Regions from separate parts of the Homo sapiens genome. Here all the other regions are linked to region 2. Evidence: fine-mapped QTL for protein levels in blood plasma. A gene starts in region 2. Each other region holds a variant in brackets. All regions are shown on one strand. Distances are from middle to middle.

Region 1 (5,368 bases), 70 kb before region 2:
GGGCAGGGGAGGACTAGTTAGAGCAAGGCCTGCCTTTCCCCTCACCCTGTATTTGGAAGAGCCAGTCCAACAGTGTCCCTCCAGTATAGTCCCACAGGCCAGAATCATCTTCCCAAGAGTGGCCCTGGGAGCGGGACTTTCACCCTCCAAATGTCTCCCTACCTCTAACAAAGACATGCGTTCTACATTCCACACTGAAGCGGGGGTGACAACAAACAGCAGATGAGTATGGTAGGTCAACTGCTGTAACACATAATTCCCTAACCTCAAGCCTTCATACCAATAAAGGTCTGTTTTTCATCTGTGGGATGGCAGGGTTGGGTGGGGAGATGATCCACGCAGTCATTCAGGGACCCAGGTTCTTGCTAGCTTTGCGGCTCCTTCTATCCTACTGCCTGGAATCCTCTGGATGCTCTGCCCCCAGCCAGCAGAAGAGGAGAAAGAGGTGGGGATGACTGTCTGTGGCCAGCAGACCCTGGCTGGGGTCTCCTGCTAACCATGTCCTTGACATTTCCCTGGGGGTGAGTGAGGGTTCCATGAGCAGCAGCTCAGCTGTGATCAGGTGGTTTCTGATAGGGACCTTCTGCTGTGTCTGTGACAGGGATCTTGGGCTGATAGAGCTGTGGTTTCTGATAGGCACCTTCTGCTAAATGCAAGTGAGGTGAGGCCTACCTGATCTTACATCATCCATAGCCCCAACTAAGAATTACTAGAACAGAGTTTTCCCCAGCGTTATCCCAGCCTCGTGTCCTCATAATCCCTGGATGAAGGCAGTGGACATTTTTTCAAGAGGTAGATTCTGGGAGCCACTCCAGACAAACTCAATTGGCATTTCTGGGGTGGAGCCCTGGAATCTTCTTAAGCAAGCACCCGTAGTGATTCTATGCTCACTGCCGTGTGAGAACCATAAGACTAGACTTTATCAGGGACTTGTGTTTGTCAGCTTTGTTCTGTCTGGACCCGGCAGAGAACCTAGAATGGCCAAGCCCTCAGAAAGTCTCAAGCCTGAATCTGAATCCTCAAAACCTAACTTTTTATTATAGAAAACGTCAAACACATGCAAATGTGGAGAAAAGGTATAATCAACATGCAAGTACCCTTCACCCAGCTTCAGCCATTACCACATCATAGCCAGTCTTGTTTCATGCACTCCACCCTTCATTCAGTCATTTATTATTATTTTTTATTTTAGTGGGTTTTTTTTTTTTATTTTTGAGGTCTCACTATGTTGCTCAGGCTGGCCTTGAACTCCTAGTGTCAATCAATCCTCCCACCTCAGGCTCCCAATATCCAATTTGAAGCAAATCCCAGCCATCATATTTTATCCCCAAATGCTTTAGGATGTCTTTCTAAAACATAAGGACTCTCTCTTTATCAAACATAACCACAATACCATAACCACACCTAAAAAATTAACAATTCCTTAATACTAAATATCTAGTAAATGTTTACATCTCCCCAATTATCTTATAGTTTTAAAATTGGTTTGTTTGAGTCAGAAATCCAGGCAAGAGCCATAGGCTGTGATTGGTGGGTTGGTCTCTTAATTCTCTTTTCATCTATTCATTCCCCCCAAGCACCTGAATGGCTTGCTAACACAGATTCCTGTACCCCACCAAGAGAATCTAATATTCAGCCAGATGTGGTGGCTCACACCTGTAATCCCAGCACTTTGGGAGGCTGAGGCAGGAGGATTACTTTTGCCCAGGAGTTCAAGACCAGGTTGGCCAATATAATGAGACCCCATCTCTGCAAAAAGAAAAAAAAAAGCCAGGTGTGGTGGTGCGTGCCTGTGGTCCCAGCTATTTAGGAGGCTGAGGTGGGAAAACTGCTTGAGCCCAGGAGGTTGAGGCTGAAGTGAGCTGTGATCACGCCACTGCATTTCAGCCTGGGTGACAGAGCGAGACCTCTTTTCCAAAAAAAGATTCAGGAGAGCTAGATAGAGTCTGAGAGGCCCAGCATATTCCCAGGAGATGGTGCTGCTGCTGTCTCTGGTAGTGCTTCTACAGAGTTTCCCAAAGACTGGATTTTGCTGGCTGCATCTCCTGTGGTGTCATTTAATGTGTTCCTCTGTCCCTTGTATTTCCTGTAACTAACTAGACAGCTCTGGAGCCTCAATCAGAATCAGGTTCAATTTTTTGGTAAGACAACTTCATGGGTGGTATTCTATTCTTTCTTTAGGAGATGCATAATGTCTATTTGACTCTCTTTTTTGTCAAATGAGTTTTCGTCCTGAATCTCACTCCAAATTTGAGTCAGCAATCCAATGAGACCCAACCTCACCCAGCCTACACAGGTGGGCCCAGGGGGTAGGGTTTGTGGAGGAAATAAGTGACCATAGCCACATGCCCACACAGAACACAATCATCTTCAAAGAGCTTTCCTACTGCATAACTCTTCTGATGCTCATTAATCCTGTAAGGGGGGCATAGCTGGCATTACTATCTCAGCTCTCCAGAACTAGAAAGAGATGAATGACTTCACCAAGGCCACACACCTGGCAAGCAGCAGAGCCAGGGTGGTAGCCAATGTCTAGCACTGTCCCCCCTCCCACAGCCCTGCCTCCCTCCAGGTGACTCCCCTGCTGTTCTCCCTCTTCTAGGACCCAGATCAACTTCACTGTGGCCATTGATTTCACTGCCTCCAATGGTGAGTTGGGGGATGGGTAGAGGAGCAGGGTGGGAGGAGAGAGCTTTTAAGGGCTGTGGCATCTGGCCCTGGCTGGGACCATGACCCTCATACTCTCTGGCCTCTTCCTCACCAAAGAGGATGTACCTAGGTCTGGAGGACCAAAGATACAACCAAGATGGCAGTAGTATCCCCAGGTTGGACCATTGACATAAATCTGGGCTCTGAGCCACAGCCTTGTCCTTGAGGAACACCCAGTCTCCCTGGGGGAATGGGATTGTGTGTACTCTGGGCCTATGGAGGGCCCTGGAGATGTTTCCCCCCGGGATCAAATCCCAGCTCCTCTGTGCAGTCCAACCCACAGGCTGGAGTGGAGAATCAGAGCCAAGGCTGAGCTCTGTGGTGTTCAGGGAGGCAGGATCCAGCCCAGGGACCCCAGTCCTTACCTGGCTGGGGCTGCCCTGGCTTCCTTACCTCCTCCCAATTTCTCCAGTGTCAGCCTGTGGCTGAGTCACTAGGAGCAATAACAGTGCCCAACTTTACATGATTAGAAACATCACAACCTCCCTTGGGCTCTGGGCTCTATTAGGGGTGCTCAGTGCTAATTTTTGCACCAATCAAAAATGCCCAGGTCTTGCCCTCTACAGGTGTCAGGAGCTCCTCTTATAGCTGTAAGTCCTAGCATCATAGAGCACTGGGCTATCAGAGCTGGAAGGGGCCTTAGTAATAATAACACTGAGGATAGTTATCATAATATCGATAGCATCTGTGTAATATTCACATCAATCCTATGAAGTAGGAACTATTATTGCTCTGATTTTACAGGTGAAGAGACTAAGGCTAAGGTTAAGGAACTTACCCAAGATCACATAACTAGCAGGAGGTAGACAGGATTGGTACCTTGGCAATCTGTGCTGTACTACCTCCCATCAATGAACAAATAAGTTAAATACAGACTATATTGGCAGCGAAGAGGGCTCTGGGGGGGGAAATCAAGCCAGGAAGAAGGATAGGAAGGATTGGGGGAGGCTGTAATTTTTAATAGGCTGCTTGGAAAAGATCACACTGAGGAGGTGACACTTGAGCAGAGACCTGAAGAGGCCAGGGAGCGGGCCAGGGAGTGGACATCTGGGGAAGAGTGTCCCAGGTAGAGGGAACAGCCATCACCAAGGTCCTGAGGTGGGAATGGCGAGGGGCTGGTGAGGCTGGGACTGGCGAGTGACAGGGAGGAGGGTAGGAGATGACCTGGAGGCCAGATCATGAGTGCTTGCGGGCTCTTGTGAGGACTTTGGGTTTCATTTTGGGGGAGGTGGAGGCATTGAGCGTTTTGGGCAGAGGAGAGGCATGATCTCTCTGAGGC[G/A]GATAGGCTCAGTCACTGCTGTGCTGGATATGGGCTGGAGGCACAGGGGCAGAAGGAAGTGGGAGATCAGTTAGGAGACTGCTGCATCCTATAAGCAAGAGGGTGGTGGTATGGGGAGGAGGAGAGGCGGAGGAGGGATTCTAGATCTGTTTTGCTGAAGGATTTAACATGGGGTATGAGAGAAAGAGAGGAGTCAAGAATTAATAAAAGTTAGGGGTGCCCTTGGACACCCCCTTCTTCATTCTGAACCCGGGGTGACTTGGAGGGTCCAGATGGTCAAAGGCTCCCATGTCCTGTGTTACAGGGAACCCCTCACAGTCCACATCCCTGCACTACATGAGCCCCTACCAGCTGAACGCCTACGCGCTGGCGCTGACTGCCGTCGGAGAGATCATCCAGCACTACGACAGTGACAAGATGTTCCCTGCCCTGGGCTTCGGGGCCAAGCTGCCCCCGGATGGCAGAGTGTCCCACGAGTTCCCACTGGTAGGTGGTCCCGCTGGTGGGAGAGAGGACTGATCAGGCTGGGGGTGAGGTGACAAGCTGGGGGTGGGGGGACGTTTCCCTTCCTCTGAGCCCGGGGACTTAAGGCTCAGCCTCAGTGGAGGTAGACTGCCTGCTGTGTGTAGGGGGGCTCCAGAAATCCACTCCCTTCCCTGATCACAGATGCTGCCCCTCCATGTCTGAAGCTGCCTGCCCACAGCTGGCCCTGGCTTCCTTGTTCCTGACAAGACGCAGGTGCAGGTGGAGGCGAGCTGTGGCTGACCCATCCCTCAGGGCCCCAGAAAAGTGAACAAGGTGGTGTGGGTTGGGTATCCCTGAGTCAGTGCTGAGATGGGATGACGTGGATCTCCAGGGTGATGTGGAGCATGGCGTCATCTGGGCATCCCGGGCCCTGTGGAGATGATTGCACAGGCCACCCCTTTCCCTGGCTCCCACGAGCTGGGGACACTCAGGCACAGCAGACGTCCCTCCCATGCCTGAGGGTGCAAGGTGCTGTGCTGGGCCCAGTGTGCACGTGGACAGATCAGCCACAGGTCCTTCCTGAGTTGCTGAGACCCAGCAGTCATTTTAGGGCAGAGTGGATTTACCCAAGGTTCCCTGAGGGAAGCAGCCAGGGATCTTGGGGCATCTCTGAACAGGTACAGGGAGCCGGGTAAGGAGCAGGTTTGGACCCAGCTCACCTGAAGCATGCACTGCTTCAGGATGGGCCCTGGGAGCTCCCTCCCCTGCCCCGCCACCCCACACCAGAGAAGACCTGGGGGAGCCCAGGCCTGCTGGCCTCCCCACCTGGACTCAGTTCCCACACATCGTGCACCCCTGTCCTTCCTTCCTGGGCTCAGCCTCCCTGCCCTCTGTCCCCCAGAATGGCAACCAGGA
Region 2 (8,180 bases):
TTGCCTAACATCACACAGTTCATAAGTGGCACAGCCAGGATCTGAACCCAGGCCTGTTTGCCCTGAGTCCTGTGCTGTAGTATTGAACCCCACTCCCTCTCTAATTTTGAGGTTTCTTAACCAGAGAGGCCCATCACAATCACTTGGGGAGGCCAGGGGCAGTGGCTTATGCCTGTAATCCTAATACTCTGGGAGGCAGAGGTGGGAGAATCATTTGAGCCCAAGGGTCCAAGACTAGCCTGGGCAACTAGCTGAGACCCTGTCTCTACTAAAAATAAAAATAAATAAAAATTAGCTGGGTGGTTGGGTGCAGTGTCTCACACCTGTAATCCCAGCACTTTGGGAGGCCGAGGAGGGCGGAGCACGAGGTCAGGAGATTGAGACCATCCTGGCTAACACGGTGAAACCCCGTCTCTACTAAAAATACAAAAAAAAATTAGCCGGGCATGATGGCAGCACCTGTAGTCCCAGCTACTCGGGAGGCTGAGGCAGGAGAATGGCGTGAACCCGGGAGGCGGAGCTTGCAGTGAGCCGAGATCACGCCACTGCACTCCAGCCTGGGTGACAGAGCGAGACCGCATCTCAAAAAAAAAAAAAAAAAAAAAAAAATCTGGGCATGGGGGCGGGGGGATCACGCCTGTGGTCCCGGTTACTTGGGAGGCTGAAACAGGAGGACTACTTGAGTCCAGGATGGTGCCATTGCACTCCAGCCTGGGTGACAGAGTGCAACTCTGTCGAAAGAAAAGAAAGAAAGAGAGAAAGAGAAAGAAAGAGAGAAAGAGAAAGGAAGAAAGAAAGAAAGAAAGAAAGAAAGAAAGAAAGAAAGAAAGAAAAGAAAGAAAAAGAAAGAAAGAAAGAAAAAGAAAGAAAGAAAGAAAGAAAGAAAGAAAGAAAGAAAGAAAGAAAGAAAGAAAAAAAGAAAGAAAGAAAAGCACCTAGGGAGTTTTTTCAAAATATAGATTGCTGAGGCCCTGCCTCCCGAGACCAACTTAATCCAGATTGAAGATTCAAGCAAGTGTTTGGCACAATTCCTCAGATGGGCACTCTTGGGTTGCCAGCCAAGCGGAGACACACTGGTATGTTTGAAATGGACATTCTGGGTCTCAATACATCATAGGCACAAGGAGGAGGCGCCCGCCTAGGGCTTCATCAAGGTGCTGGATATTCCCTGGCTCTCGGGAGTTCAAGACAGGACTAGGATCTAGGCAGGCACCCTCTCCTCTTCTACCACCCCTCCTTCTCTTATGGCTCTCATAGGCCTCTCCTCCCCCATCAAAATCTGCTCTCATGCTCATAATAACTTTCAGCCCAAAGAAAACTCAGAAACGCAAACCCTTGTTTTAGAAACAATTAAAAATAGCCTCCTTTATTGGCCTTCCTGCCTTAGACTTCAGCCATATTTTAATTTCCAGTAAGAGCTCAGTGAATACTGTTGAACCTAAGGAGTGCTCCTTTGAAGGGGTGGTAATGGCATAGGGGTTGATCTCGGATGAGCCCAGGAGTAGCCGCGGCGGTTCGCGCCGGCCAGCCCCACTCCGCGGGAAAGCCTGTGTGCTATTCCCGCCAGGGCCGGGAGGGGGCGCCGGCCTCCAGGAAATCACGCGCGGAGTGGGAGGTGCGTGGGCAGAGCCTCGGACCGCTGGAGGGAGTAGTGATGAGTCAGTTTCCTGCAAGGCGCTGCTCGCCCGCCAAAACTGCTTCCACTCCGGCTGCGCGTCACCCTGGGGTGGGGAGGGGGAGAATGGGAGGGGACCGGGGGGCCGCGAACACGTCACGCTGAGCCGGCCAGGCTTCCGAAACTCCCGCCGCTGTTGGGAAACCGCGCGCTCTTGTGCCGTCTCTGACACAGACACACACACACACACACACACACACACACACACACACGCCCGCGCAGACACGCACGCGCGCGCGCGCCGGGAGCCGGCCCCTCCACCTTATCTCCACGCCCAAAGCACGGGATGAGTCAGATCCCTGGAAAATAAAAATAGACGGGAGCAACGAAAACAAAACCGCTCGCAAGTCCTCCCAGAAACGCGACGTGGAGGGAGGCAAGGAGAGGGGAAGCTGCCTGGGCGCCCCAAGTTCCTAACCCAGCTCCAAGATGCTTTTCCTCACGAAGAGGGCGCAAGTGTCCCCCAGGGGTTTGGGACGGAGAGGACGCGCTGTGGTCCGCGCCAGGCGGCGGCGCCCCAGGGGGCGACTCGCCCCCCTGCTCCGCTCAGCCCTGTAGCTTTCGGAGAGGGAATCTGGGCTAGGTCGGGAAGCCCTGAGCCCCCGAGGCAGCTGATAGAGGCCCTGAGCAGCGTCGTGCCCCCCAGACCCCCCACCCCTCAAAGACATGAACCCTCCCCGCCTCCCATCCAGGCGTGGGCTCCGCTCCCGCCCCGGAGTCCAGCGCCCCGACCCGAGGACAGGCTGGGCCGCGATTCTCCCGGCCGCGGTGGGAAAGAGGTAGAGGAGACCCTTGCCCTTCCCCGACTGACAGGCTGGTTAGAGCCCGCCCAGAGCAGGGCCGTGACTCCCCGACCCCTACAGCGCGCCGCGGAGCGGGGACCCGACGCGGTGTCCCGGACCTCCAGTGCCCGGCTTCCTTGGGAACAAACTGTTCCAGCCAAATAGGTCACTGTGCCGATGGGAGGACGGAGACCGCGAAGGGGCAGGGGAGAGGGCTTCTGGAGTCCCGCTGTACCCCATCCCGGGCGGGGTTCTGACCTCATACAGTCCGTTCCCTGGGGTCTCCTTGTCACAGTGAGTCACCTCCTCGCTAGTCCTTAGGGGACGGGTCCTGGCACATTCCCAAGGGCCAGGAAACAGCCCGCGCTGACCTCAGCGCTCAGCCAGGTGGTGGACACAGTGGCGTAAAGGACCTGAACCTGGGACCTGGGCCAGGGCGGCGCAGATTGGATCCCAGAGCCACCCGGGACCGATCCTAGACGAACTTACTCCACTCCGCTTTCCTCGCCCTTCCTGGGCCCCTCCAGGGACACGGACTTCATCCCCACGCCGCGAGCAAACTGCGCCTGGGGCCTGGAGCCAACCGCAGCCAAAGGCGAGCTCCCAGAACGGTCCCGTCCACGCCCTCCCTCGCCCCAGCTGGGTTTCCAGGGGCGGGGAGCGTGACCAGGGATTCCTGTACTTGTAATCCCGCTCTCCGCCCCGGGGTCTCCGGCACATCCCGACTCTCGTCACCCGCGCACTTAGAGACACCGTGTGCGCAAGCCGAGCGCGCACCGACCCACGCCCGTCATTCACCTGCCGCAGAAACACCTGTGAACGCAGCACACACCCGCGAACACGCATCCTCGCGGACACGCAGGGACACACGCGGGCACGCTTGGCTCGGCTCTGGGCCGCCGGCCCGGGGTCCCCTGTTGTCTGCCGCCGCTCTCTCACCTCCTCTGAGTGCCTCGGTGCCTCGGCGAATCCGCGCCCAGCTCCGGCTCCACAAGGAACTGACTTCGGCAGCTGCTCACACCTCAGCTGGCGCAGCTCAGCGCGGCCCTGATATACAACCGCCCCGCCCGGGCCCGCCTCAAGGAGGCGGGACCCGCGCTCGGCCCACCGCGCCGCCCGGGACCGCCCTCCCCGGGGCCCAGGCTCCTGGCTGCCCAGCGCCGAGCCAGCTGAGCCTGGCCGAGTTCCAGCAGGCCAGCCGGTCCCGGAACCTCGCGTGCTGCAGGAGGGCACTTCCCTCCTCCCCCAGTCCCTCGCCTGCGTTGGTGCGCTGGACACATTTCCCCACGAAGTGAGCCACAAATCTGGCTTTTTTTACTTGGAGAATGAGTTGGCACTCTCCAGGAGGACACAGCACTGTTAGAATGAGCCCCCTTTCTGGCTCACCGCTGACCCACTCTGGCAGGCAAGGATTTACCCAATGCAGCTGAAAAGATCAGGAGGATGACATTAATACATAAAAATTCATAAATTATAAAAACGATGCACCTCTCTGCAATTTCCAGAAAAGCCCCACAATATCACCTCTATTCCCACTGATCCCTCACTAGGTCACCTCTCCCAGAAGCACCTGGAGCACCTAGACACCCCAACAAAGCATCTTGAGGCCAGAATGATTTTTCAGTCCCGTTTATTTCACAGATGAGGAAATTGAGGTCCACTGAACTTAAGTATACAAAGTTGTTGATTGTCACATGCTTCCGGGAAGGAGGGAATTGGAGAGACTACCAAAAAAGGGCAACCTGATCTCCAGGGAAACAGAAGAATTGGACATTGAACCAATCTCCCTACACCCTACACTCACCTGAACAGAAGAAATCCCTGTGGTTGCAGCAGCTTTGTTGGCCAGGAAGGGGAGGATTTGACGAGTGAGTTGTCTGTCTCCTGAATACTCCCCACATAGCCCGTATACACTGCTGGGGAAACTGGGGCTCAGAGAAGTCTGGTGACCTAACTCAGATCATGCAGCAAAGAAATGACTATAGTTGGAACACAGGACTTTTGCCTCCTGCCCGGGGCTCTCTGCTTGTCATCCTTTATTTCTGTGGCTCCAAAATGACAAAAATGCCAAATAACCCTCATTTGCAGATGGTTTATGGAGATGACATAAATAAAGGACAATTCTGGAAGTGTCTACTGGTTCTTCTGACAGACACAGAAATGAGTGATGTGTCTATCCGCTCCCATCTACCTCACACCCCTGACCTCCCCTGGACTTCACCTTTGCCTCCTTTCTGTGCCTGAAACATTTGCAGTTTTGCTTTTAAAAAATTGCAGAGGATGGATTGTTCATCTGAACAGAAATCCCACTAAAAAACAGAACCCAGGCTTGGAGCAGCTACAATTACTGACATCTCAGGCTGCTCAGAGTCTGGAAATCTCTGCCCAGACATGCCCAGTCTTCTTCCTCTAACGCAGCTGACCTCGGGGAGGACAGGCTTCTTTCTCCTCTGCTGTGGGGATGGGAGCCCAGGTAGGGGTGGGAGGACACAGTAGCAGACCCCCTTGGCCTGCCTCGCCCTGGAGTCAGGCCAGGATTGTGGCTAAACCCCAGAAAGGCCACGGCACAGCCTCAGGACCCCACTCTAAGCCCCACTGCTGTCTGCACCTTCGCTCCTATACATCCAAACCATCCAAAGGGCTGGTTGTCAAATGTCCAGCAGAGGACAGGCACCTTCTCCCACTGCCTTGAAGCCCCTCTGCTTTCAGGCATTTCAAATAGACTAGACATTGTCTGTCTGTTTACTTTGGGGAGAAAATTTTTTTTAATAAAGGCTTGTAATGAATTATTTAAATTTTTGTGGTACTGAGCTTCACAATGAAATAATTCTTTTTGTTGTTGTTTTTGGGAAAGAATTTTTTTTATAACTTCTAGCTCACCACCACCACGACATTCAATATTTCTTAAGTACCTACTAAGTGTCTAGTACTATTCAGTGCTTTAAAAAAAAAAGTTTGCAACCATGCACTTGAATGTGTACCCAGACACACTCTAAGGGAGGACTTCTGCCCTGAAAAAGGCAAGGGAGCAGGCTGTTAAAAGTCACACACAGAATCTGACTCCCAGCACACACTCACACAAGCACACATGCATCAGATCCCAGCCCTGTCGCAAGGATCTGCTGGCAGATCACATACCCTGTTCAGAGTAACAGGCTAAGGTTTACCTGGGGTCTTTAGAGGTCTCCTGTCTCCTACCATCCCCTTCCTCACCTGAAAACAGGCAGCCCAAGGACAAAATAGCCACCAGCCTCTTCTATGCCAGAGCTCAACATGTTGGGACATGTTCCTGACGGCCAGAAAGCCAATCAGAGCCACAGCCTGCTGCCCAAGCATGTTCCTGGGAAGCAGGCAGCATAGGGATGGAGGGAGGCTCAGCCTGGGGGACAAGAGTGCCCAGTCCAGCCCCCTCCCCAGAGTGCGGTGGAGCAGCATGGGGTAGGGGAATGGTGAAAGGTGGAAAGCCCAAGCCTGAAGAAGGAGGATGTGAGGAAGGCTCAGTGGTGGCTGCAGAAGCTGCCTAGGAAGGGAGAGGAAGTGCTGGGAACAATGTCACCATTTCTCAGAAAGAGACTGGGGAGTCCCAAATAGGGGCAGTCAGCTTTCAGAGGAATTCACCTTCACACAGGCTCCCAAGAAGTGAGACCCCAGAGAAGAGGCGGAACAAAGATAGAACATTATTGAGCAGAGGCAGCCCTGGCTTTTTGTTTTCATTTTGTTTTTTTGTTTTGTTTTGTTTTTTGAGACAAAGTCAGCAGTGGCACAATCTCAGCTCACTGCAGTCTCCGCCTCCCAGGTTCAAGCAATTCTGCCTCAGCCTCCCGAGTAGCTGGGATTACAGGCATGCACCACCATGCCCAGCTAATATTTGTATTTTTTTTTTTGCACAAAAAGTTGGATTTATTGTTTCTGACAAGTGGTTAGTAATTTTCAGTTTGCTCATGTTCCTAGCATCACAAATCTGAAGTACAATTTTGCTTCTCAATTAAAAATATATACTGGCCGGGCGTGGTGGCTTACGCCTGTAATCCCAGCACTTTGGGAGGCCGAGGCGGGCAGATCACAGGGTCAGGAGTTTTGAGACCAGCCTGGCCAATATGGTGAAACCCCGTCTCCATTAAAAATACAAAAATCAGCCGGGCATGGTGGTGGGCACCTGTAGTCCCAGGTATTCAGGTGGCTGAGGTGGGAGAATCGCTTGAACCTAGGAGGCGGAGGTTGCAGTGAGCTGAGATCATGCCACCTGCACTCCAGCCTGGGTGACAGAGTGAGACTCCGTCTCAAAAAAAAAATATATAAATCTTTGTGTAAAATGAAAAAAAAATCAAGGCATAAAAATTTCATTGTGTTCTACATTTTTAAATATAAATTGCCTCCTTTAAAATATTTTCATCCATTCATTCAAAAACCTTTTAACTTCAACTGTCCAATTTAAGATAGAGTGAAGACATTTTTGAGTATCTGAACTAAGCATTGTCTTGACTGAAACGAAGTAAGAACTCTATGAGAGTCCTTGTGGGCCTCCCGGTCATGCCTTTCCATAGATAGGGAACCTCATCTTTGTTGGTCATCACACCTGCTATGTCTAAATGTGCCCACTTAGGATGAGTCACGAATTCTTTCAGGAATGCCGCAGATGTACATGCTCCCGCAGATCTATATTTTCCAATGTTGTTAACATCAGCCAGCTGGCAATCTACAACCTGTCTTGTACAATGTTTGAAGAGAGGCATCCTCCAGACACGGTCCCCTGTTTCAATGCTGGCCTCGAAGAGCTTGTTCCAGAGCCAGGATGAATTGGTAAAGACCCCAGTGGCACCTGACCCCAAAGCTACATCTATGACACCTGTTAAGGTGGTGGCATTGAGGATGACCTTCGGGTTAAATGTGTGCACGTAACAGAGCGCATCAGCCAGTATGAGCCTCCCCTCAGCATCAGTGTTACCAACCTGGATGGTCTTCCTGTTCCTGGCTCTAACAACATCCCCCAGCTTGTTGGCCTTGCCGCTGGGCATGTTTTCACAGAGGGGCCAGACCTATAATATTAATGGGCAAACTGAGATTTGCAGCAGACACAATGGCTGAGCATATAGTTGTAGCTCCTCCCATGTCGGCCCTCATGAGGTCCATATTTGCAGAAGCCTTGATGGAGATACCACCACTGTCAAAGGTAATTCCTTTCCCAACAAACAAGGGGTGGTTTGTCTGCATTGGGGCTGCCTATGTAGTGAATTTCCAAGAAGACTGAGGGCTCGTCAGATCCTTTGGCCACACTGAGGAATGATCCCATTGCCTGTTCCTCAATCCAAGACCTGGGTCTGATATGAAACTCGGTTTACTACTAGCGCTTTTGAGATTCTTCTCAATAATTTCGGCAAATCTGGTTGGCATCATCTCGCTGGCTGGCGTCTCCATCATGCCAAGTTCTGCCCAGAAGCAAACAGGACTCCTTTCTGCCAGGCCTCCTGATCCCCAGTTCCATAGAGCTTCACCGACATAGCCATCTTCTTTTTTTGCTTTAGGTCATCGTATTCATAGAGACCAAGCACCGCGCCCTCCTCAGCAGCCTGAGCATCTCTACAGGGATCCACCTCCACGGAAGAGAGCTCCAGGTCTTGAATCTGCCTGCATCCTGCTGCAACAGCAGCTCTGATGTTTTCTTTGCCTTCCTGCCAGTTTTCCTGTTCGTCGATTCTGGCTGCCTTTTTGCCGAGGCCAACTAG
Region 3 (8,187 bases), 78 kb before region 2:
GATCACATCGCTCCCCTGCTTAAAATCTGTGTAGGGCATTCCACCCACCTCCTTAGCCTGGTTCGCACATGGGAGGTGGGAAGAGATACTGAAAGATGCTCCCACCGCAGCTGAGATCCACTGACCTACAGGGTGAAGTTCCAAGCTCTTTCATTTGGGATGCTGTTTCCCCAGCCAGCCACCCGCAATCTGTGTATGCGTGCTTTTTTTTTTTTTTTAAGATGGAGTCTCATTCTCACCCAGGCTGGAGTGCAGTGGCACAATCTCGGCTTACTGCAACCTCCACCTCTACTTCCAGGCTCTAGCTATCCTCCCACCTCAGTCTCCCAAGTAGCTGGGACCACAGGCACACACCACCACCCTGGCGATTTTTTTTTTTTTTTGCATTTTTGGTAGAGATGGGTTTTTGCCATGTTGCCCAGTCTGGCCTCCAACTCCTGAGCTCAGGTGATGCACCCGCCTCGGCCTTGCAAAGTGCTGGGATTTCAGGTGTGAGCCACCACGCCTGGCTGTGCATGTAAATAAAAACACACATCACATGCCTTTGGAGGCCCCTAGGAGCTGGCCCCTGCCCCTTCCCTCTGCCCATTCCCACATTCATCCCCGTCCTGCCACCTGAGGCTCTCTGAACCTCCGTGCTGTCTCAGCCTCCAGGGCTCGATTCATATGGGTGCCTCCACCTGAGACTCCCTCTTGTCTTCTCCTGGGTAGGAGCTATTGGTCCACGGAGCCTCCCTGTGGGTGTTCCTCCTCCAGGAAGTTGTGTCCACCTGCACACCCGCCCCACCCCAGAGCCTGGAGTGGACACTTGTCAGTGCTCCTGGGGTTCCTTCTGGCTATTTTCTGTTTTGTGACACTATTCAACCCCTCAAAGACCTTGAAGTCCTCAGGGTGGGGGTTGTGTTGCACTTACTGCTGCATCCCCAGAGCCAGCACAGCTCCTGGCCCCTAGGAGCCCCTCAGTGCCCCCACCCACCCCACCTAATGTGCGCAGGAGGGCAGATTCCAGACCTGTCCTGTCCCCGCCTGACCACCAAGAAGAAGGGAGGTGACTTAGTGGAGGGGCAGCTCCTCGGCTGGCCCCTAGGTGGCGCTGGCCCCCTGCATGGGATTCACCGTGGCGGGGCTGGAGAGGCTGAGGCTGGGAGCATGAAACCTCAGGGTAAACAGGGATCTGAGAACAGAACATTGCTTTAACATTAAAGCAGTTATATCAGAGAGTGGAAATGTGGAATACAGGCTAATTTAAAGATAACATAGAAAGCTTAGAAGAAACATGCTTGTGGCCAAATCTTTGGTTACTCTCAGGACTCCGGGTTCATTCTCCCCAGCTGGGAGGGCTATGTTGGAGCAAAAGTTTGAGATGCTGTCCATTCCGATAGTTCAACACCCTCAAGGGAGAGATTGGGAAACTGAGGCACAGTGCAGCACTGGGGCTGCCATTTTGCCCTCATCTTAACAGCTTGCCTACTTAAGCTGTTTTCCCATGAATGTGTCCGTGAGCACCTCACCATCTGGGTAACCCCGTGGAGGGGGCGTCCTCCAGTGCTAAAGAGGGTGCTCTGGTCTTCTCTCCCGGGCTCTCTCACCATCTCGCCCAGGCCCTCAGTTTCTACCTGCACAGCTTGCCAGACCTCCCACGTGAACTTCCCACCTGTGCCCCAAATCCAGCGCCTTCCTTCTGTGTCTACCTGGTCACCCCAACCCCTCCCTCTCTCGAACCTCTATAGCCACGCCCAGGGCCCAAGAGGCGTGGTCACTTCTTGACAGCGCTGTTCTCACCATAGCTCAGCACCTGTCCCAATACCCCCAAGTCCTCATGACCTCTCGCATGGACTTATGGTGGCAGTAATAATAGTAGTAGTAATTTTGAAAAATAGCAACTAAGGCTGGGTGCAGTGGCTCACGCCTGTAATCCCAACACTCTGGGAGACTGAGGCAGGAGGATTGCTTGAGCCCAAGAGTTTGAGACCAGCCAGAGTAACATAGCGAGATCCTATCTCTACCAAAAAAAAAAAAATAGCCAGACATGGTGGCAGCTACCTGGAAGGATTGCTTGAGCCCGGGAGGTTGAGGCCACAGTGAGCTATGACCCCACCACTGCACTCCAGCCTGGGCCATAGAGCAAGACCCCGTCTTAGAAAAAAGCAACAGACACGTATAGATAATACTTACTACATTCCAAACTGTTCTAGGCACTTTGCTTGCATTGGCCCATTTAATCCTCATACCTTTCCGGGAGGCAGGTACTTCTTATTCCCATTTTAGAGATGAGGAGACTGAGGCACATTGAGGTTAAGTAACCTGCCTAAGGTCACACAGCTATTATTAGGTGGCAGAACTAGGCAAATATTTCCTGGATGAGCCTCCTCCTCCCCTCACACTCACCTCCACCAGGCCCCAGTGTCCTAGAGCCTGCTCTGATTTTGTCTCCTACCAGCTTGGGGGTCATCAGAGTTCCCTGCAGGCCGCTGGGTGACATTCAGACATTTTTCACTGGGCATTCTAGGCTCTCCTCCAACCAGCCCAGCTTACTCTTCCACCCTGTGGTTCTGCCATCAAACTGGGCCTGGGTTCTATTCATTTCTCCCACAGAACCTCCTCTGACATCCATCTCTCCGTGCCCAGAGCCTTCCTGTGCCTCTAAGTCTGCCTTCAAGACTTCCTGCTCCAGAGAGGCTTTGCTGACACTCTCACCTAGAGTGGTCTTTCCTTCCTCTAACTCCCCTGACACTTCTGTGATCCCCCTTGTTCCATGGCCCTTGTCACTTTTTGCCCTGAGGACATATCTTCTCTCTCCAACATAGGTGATAGATGATTCCAGGGGAGAAGCAATATATGTCTCCACCCACCCCATAAATGTATGTCAAAGAGATCTGTTTGTATCTGTTATCAAGGTGGCACCAATGTATGCACCACTGGCCCGGGGGCAGGAAACCTGGTTTCTAATCCTGTCACTACCCAGATGGCTGTGTGACTTTAGGCAAATCACCTGGTGTCGCTGTGCTTTAGTTTCCTTCTTGCTGGAAGTAGATAGCAATACTCACCCAGACAGAAGAGACCACGGTAAAGATCAGCTGACGGCCTCTGTGGGAACAAAGACAGGGAAAGGGGAAATGAGTTCACCAGAAACCAACAGGCAGCACAGGAGGTATGAAAATTGCCTGGCTTTGTTTGATGGGACATTAGGGAAAAGTTGTGCCTAGACTTCCCTTATTAAAAACAAAACAAAGAAAAACTGGCGAGGGTCAAATGAGAATACAAATACAGTAAGTGCGGAAGTCTCGTGGGGGGCCTCAGGGCTGGGTGGCTCTCGTCACTTTGCCCAGTCTTGGCCTTGGCACTACTGGGATTTGGGACTGCATCACTCCCTGCCGTGGGAGGCTGTCTTGTGTACTGTAGGATGTTTAGCAGCATGCCTGGCCTCTACTCACCCCCTCAGTTGTGGAAACCAAAACCGTCTCCAGATGTTACCAAACGTTCCTGGGGGTAAAATCGCCCCTGGTTGAGACCGCTGAGTTAGCCACCAACAAGCCTTCTCTGAGCACCTACTCTGAGCCTAGCCCCATGATTTATCTGACACAGGTCTGGTTTGGAAGTTAAAGCTTACACTCAAAGAATAGCTAAAGAGGTTCTTGCTGCCAAGTAAGAGGGATGGTGATGGAGAGGGGAGCCTCAGAGGCCCTGGGCAGCCCTTGGGCTGGGTCCCAAAGGAGGAACAGGGGAGATTGGAATTGGCTGAGAGAGGAAGGGGGTGCATTTTTGGTGAGGGGAGCAGCCTCAACCAACACAAGGGACAGGTACAGATAGGGCCGCTTTGCAACATCAAGACTTCTTTGGCTATACTGGGTGGAGGGTGCGTGTGTTCCGGGGAACAGTGGGAGAGAAGGTTAAATAAATATTCCCGGTTGATCGTGGGACCCTGGGTCTGATGGGAGAACCCAGTTGTGTAACCCAGACTCAATACCAGTCTCCCACAAATCCTCCTTAAACCCTTCTCCCCTGGCCCCGTGGTCTTCACACCCCACACTCTAATGGGGCTGGGCTTGGACCACACCCATGGGTGGTTGGAAGCCCTCAAGACTCACCCTGACTGCCTGGAAGCATGCCTTACCTGGTAACTGGTTTTTCCTGCAGGTGGTAAACCCGAAAAAGAAAATGAAGAAAAAGAAATACGTGAATTCTGGCACAGTGAGTAGCCACCCCGGTCTCTGCAGCCGGGTGTAGACATTCTGAGCCCCAAGCTAGGTCTGGTATCAGGGAGGCCCGTGCGTCTGTGTGTGTGCAGGGGCTGAGCGTGGGAATCAGACATCCAAGAGAGATGGGGTGGGGAGGGGTGGGGCAGATGGAGCAACAGCCAGGGGAGAGAGTTGACTTGCAGACCACACAACAGGCGCTGGCTGTATCTAGCATGAGGAATCGCAGAGACATCCACGGGACTTCCTGCAGGAAGGAAGAGGAAGAGAAGTCGTATTTATTGGGCCCCTACCCTGGGAAATTCCCCACGTTGGTGCTTTTCACAGGTTGTTGCCCTGAGAGGCAGATATTATCATCCCCTAGTCATGAAAGAGGAAACCAAGGCTGCAAGCAGGAAAGTGACTCAGCCAAGGTCACACAGCTAGAAAGTGGTAGAGATGGGACTCAACATGACATCTCACTCCAGAGCTGGCAGCTGCTACGGGCGCTGCCCCTGCTTAACCGTGACCTTCCTGGGATGACACGCCGGCCTAGTGGCTTCTCGGGGCTGGTCTTGAGGACATTCATACGCTTCTTCAGCAAATACTTACTGAGTGCTACTGTGTGCCAGGCACTATTCTAGGCACATCAGATACAGCTGGAAACAAGACAGACCCAAATCCCTGGTGCTTATATTCTAGTGGGAGGAGACAGAGAAAAAAAAAAAACACACACACACACACACACA[T/CAT]GCCTGTGTGTGTCAGTTGATTATGAGAGCTATGGAAAAAGTATAAAGGGTAAAGGGACAGGCAATGGAGGAAGTATTGAGGATACTGGGGAAAGGGAATTCCAGCATTCCTGCTGTAGAGAACAGCACATGCAAAGGCCCTGAGGTGGAGCTCACAGTGCATTTCTAGAACAAGCCACTTTCTCTGCAGTGCAAACACACCCAGATTCATCCTCTCTGTGTTCCTTCCTCACTCTAGAGGCCCATGGCTAGTGCAGCCAAGCCTGGTCATTTGAGTCAGGCAGACTGTATCTCCAGACCTAGAAGAGGTTTTCAGGAGCTCTGGGGTTCCTCTGAGAAGCCTCATTTTCTCCGTCTGTAAAGTAGGACTAATAAATCATCCCCACCTTGCCACTGCACAGGGCAGCTGTGACAGACACATGGGAGATGCAGGCTTGTGAACTGTAAAATTACTCTGCTCATTCAAAGGGGACTGAACACCACTTCTTTGATTGTAACTGCTTCACAGACTGGGGCTTGGAGTCATATTTCCTTTGTCCAAGGCTGCGGTGTTTCTTAGTGGAGAGGCTGTCAGCATTTGGGCAGGAAAATTCTTCATCTCACAGGATGTTTAGCACCCCTGGCTGCTGCCCATAGCTACCAGTAGAGCCCCAGTCATTATGAGAACCCCCAAAATTCTCCCACGCCTTCCTAAATTCCCCTAGGGAAGACAGCACCTTCCCCAGCTGGGAATAAAAAGGTTCAAAAACCACTGATCTCATCCAGCCTTCTTACTTTAGAGACGAAGAAACTGTGGCCTAGAGAGGGCATGCGATTTGTCCCAGGTCACACAGTGAGCTGGAGACAGAGCGGGCCTAGGCCCAGGTCTCTTGACTTTCCTTTTACTCCAGCATTTCCCCATCTTCATCGCGAAAAATCACCCGGGATGCAGAAAGCTTGCTGAAATACAGACGCCCAGGCCAGTTCCCTGGGATTCCACTTTAGGAGGCCCAGGAATCTGTGTTTAGTGCTTTTCATCCCTTACTTATGGTGTGCAGAATCCCCTGGGGATCTTGTGAAAATGCCAAGAATCTGCATTTCTGCATTTCTACCTGGCATCGAGGTGATGCTGACGCTCTGGTCTAGGGACACTACCCTTTGAATAGGGGAAAGTCTGCTTTCACCCTGCGAGCCCCTGGGTGAACCCATATGGTCAGGGCAGTTAGGGCATTGCTTCATCCTGGGGGTTGGAATGGGGAGTGGTCAACTGTGTCTGCAGATTAGACTTACGTGAAGAGCTAAAAAAAAAAAAAAAAAAGAAGATCTCTGAAACATTCATGTAGCCCCGGAAACTCGGCTATAATGGGTCTGGGCTGCAGGATGATCTAAGAGCCCCCAGGGCATCTCATGGTCATCAGTCAGGGTTGAAGCCACTGCCGTGGTTCCTAGTAAGTCTGAGCTGCCACACTTGGAAGGAGGCCTGTGGTTCATCCAGGTGCCTAATACCTTAACCACAATAGCTGGGGGTCTTACTGCCAAGTAAGGGTGGTGCTCTCACCTGGCCCTCCCAATGAGCCTGTAAAAACAGCTGAATCTTCATGAATAGGGGGCTCCCAAACTACCAGAGAGGAGTTCGTTCTCTTACACAGGTGAAAGGTCCTCTGCCCTAATCTTGTCTCATATAATTGGCCTAGGATGCCAGGCTTTCATTTGTCTCCTTGATTCTAAATTGTTATGATAATGAGCTGCCAGGTAGCTGCCTGTCTTGGCAAAGCCAAAGCTAACTTTGCCAGGGCATAGGTTAAAAGGCCTCTGCTTGGGGGAGGGGGCCTGGGGTAGTCAGTTACCTCTGGGGAAAAGGATGGGCTACTTATGAGGCAGGATCTTGGGTCTGAGAGGGATGAGATGGGACCAGTAAGATTTAAGATAAGCACAGTCCAAAGAGGCACATTTCAGGACTAATAGCTCTAGGCACATGGAAGCCTGAAGCTGGTCGGCATTGGCAGGTTGTTAGGCCTGTGCCAGGAGGGCCCCCTTGTCCTCCACACCCCACCCTAGGTCCCTGGGGCTGAAGAGCCAGTGCCCACTTAGAGGAAACTAACACCCTTGGCTTGGACCCCGGTTCCACTGACACAGATGGGACCCTTCCGTCAAGGTCAAGAGTGCAGGCTCTGAAGTCAGACACACCCTGGTTTCAGATCCCTTCTCTGCCCTGGCAGTGTCCTTGGGCACATTGCACCACCTCTTTGGGTTTCAGTTTCCTTGGCTATAAAGTGGGGATAATAATAGTACTTCATGGGGTGGTGTGGGCAGTGCATGCAGTCATGCATGCAAAACTGGCACATGCCGAGTGTTCTGTCAATGTCAGCTCTCGAATCATAACCCATCTCCCCTGACCCCAGGCTCCCCACTGACCAAGCTCCCTTTTGTTTTGAAGGTCACCCTGCTTTCCTTTGCTGTGGAGTCAGAGTGCACCTTCCTTGACTACATCAAAGGAGGGTGAGAAGAGATACAGCCAATTTCATGGGCCTTGGGGAGAGGGAAAGGGCCCCACACACCGACAGGACCGGCTCTGGCCCCACCCTGGCCTCTTCAAAGCCCTGGTTGAAGGCTGTGGTGCTGGGCTCTGAGCAAACCCTGGTGTTTGGGCTGAGACAACTCATCCAGAGCCCTGCACATCCCCAGATCCCAAGCAGCTTGGAGGGAACTCCTGAGCCAAGGAGGCTGGCCTGGGTCATGTCAGGTCTCCATGCAGAGACAGGACCTGGAGCTGGTAGGGACTCCGTGACAGAAAGCCAAGGGCTTGGGGATGTAGAAAGAACCCTGCAATAGGAGTCAGGAGGCCCAGGCTCTAGGCCTCTCTTTGCCATTAATTTGCTGGGTTCCTTTGGGTGAGTCATTTTTCCTCTCAGGGTATCAGTTTCCTCCTCTGTACACAAAGAGAACGGAATAGGTAAGTGTTAAGGTTCCTTACAGCTCTGAGCTTCTGACACCTCTGATCTGTCTGGTTGGGGGAGGGGGACAGTGATTAACCTGCTCACTGTTATTAGGGCCCTGTAAGGGCAGCGGGATTGGGGATAAGCCAGGGATTGGTCCTGGGGCCAGCAGGTGGTCAAACATGAGTTTAAGGAGCAGAAAGAACCACCAGGCACAGTGTCTAGGCCCAGACAGATGGGGGAGCCAGGAGGCCCCAGCCAGCAGCTCACGGAAAGAGCCTGGCTCTAAGGGTAGAGCCTGCCCAGCATGCTGCCTGCCAGGACAGGTGCCAGGTCAGGGCGTGGGCA

Alleles and levels. Alleles are on the strand shown, and positions count from the first base shown. The strength of an association depends on the size of the effect and on how common the allele is. Not every link is listed here.
With allele T in place of CAT in region 3, the plasma level of the protein whose gene starts at base 3,481 in region 2 is lower (weak association).

The links. PIP is the posterior inclusion probability: the model's chance that the variant is causal. Protein levels are from antibody-based Olink assays in UK Biobank. Linkage for the fine-mapping came from a reference panel and not from the study's own genotypes, which makes the PIPs less certain.
Region 1: its variant is fine-mapped to the plasma level of the CDKN1A protein (UK Biobank, PIP above 0.99).
Region 3: its variant is fine-mapped to the plasma level of the CDKN1A protein (UK Biobank, PIP 0.95).

Annotation. Positions count from the first base shown.
Region 1 is chr6:36,745,502-36,750,869 of GRCh38, reverse strand. It overlaps CPNE5 (copine 5), which reads left to right. Exons shown (of 21, transcript NM_020939.2): 15 at 2,603-2,649; 16 at 4,293-4,474; 17 at 5,355-5,368. Among named protein-coding and RNA genes, the nearest start is that of RAB44, 50 kb to the right of the region's middle. The variant G/A (reference allele first, on the strand shown) is at 3,989.
Region 2 is chr6:36,674,015-36,682,194 of GRCh38, reverse strand. It overlaps CDKN1A (cyclin dependent kinase inhibitor 1A), which reads right to left and starts at 3,481. Exons shown (of 3, transcript NM_000389.5): 1 at 3,397-3,481. PANDAR (promoter of CDKN1A antisense DNA damage activated RNA) reads left to right here and starts at 7,069. Exons shown (of 1, transcript NR_109836.1): 1 at 7,069-8,180. It overlaps DINOL (damage induced long noncoding RNA), which reads left to right and starts at 3,636. Exons shown (of 1, transcript NR_144384.1): 1 at 3,636-4,586. It also overlaps the pseudogene LAP3P2. RefSeq lists silencers at 1,479-1,868, 3,439-3,668 and enhancers at 2,600-3,187, 3,199-3,388, 4,581-5,780, 5,760-5,829, 5,880-5,969.
Region 3 is chr6:36,752,249-36,760,435 of GRCh38, reverse strand. It overlaps CPNE5 (copine 5), which reads left to right. Exons shown (of 21, transcript NM_020939.2): 13 at 4,138-4,191; 14 at 7,341-7,402. Among named protein-coding and RNA genes, the nearest start is that of RAB44, 59 kb to the right of the region's middle. RefSeq lists enhancers at 196-1,164, 1,000-1,189, 3,875-5,074. The variant T/CAT (reference allele first, on the strand shown) is at 4,925.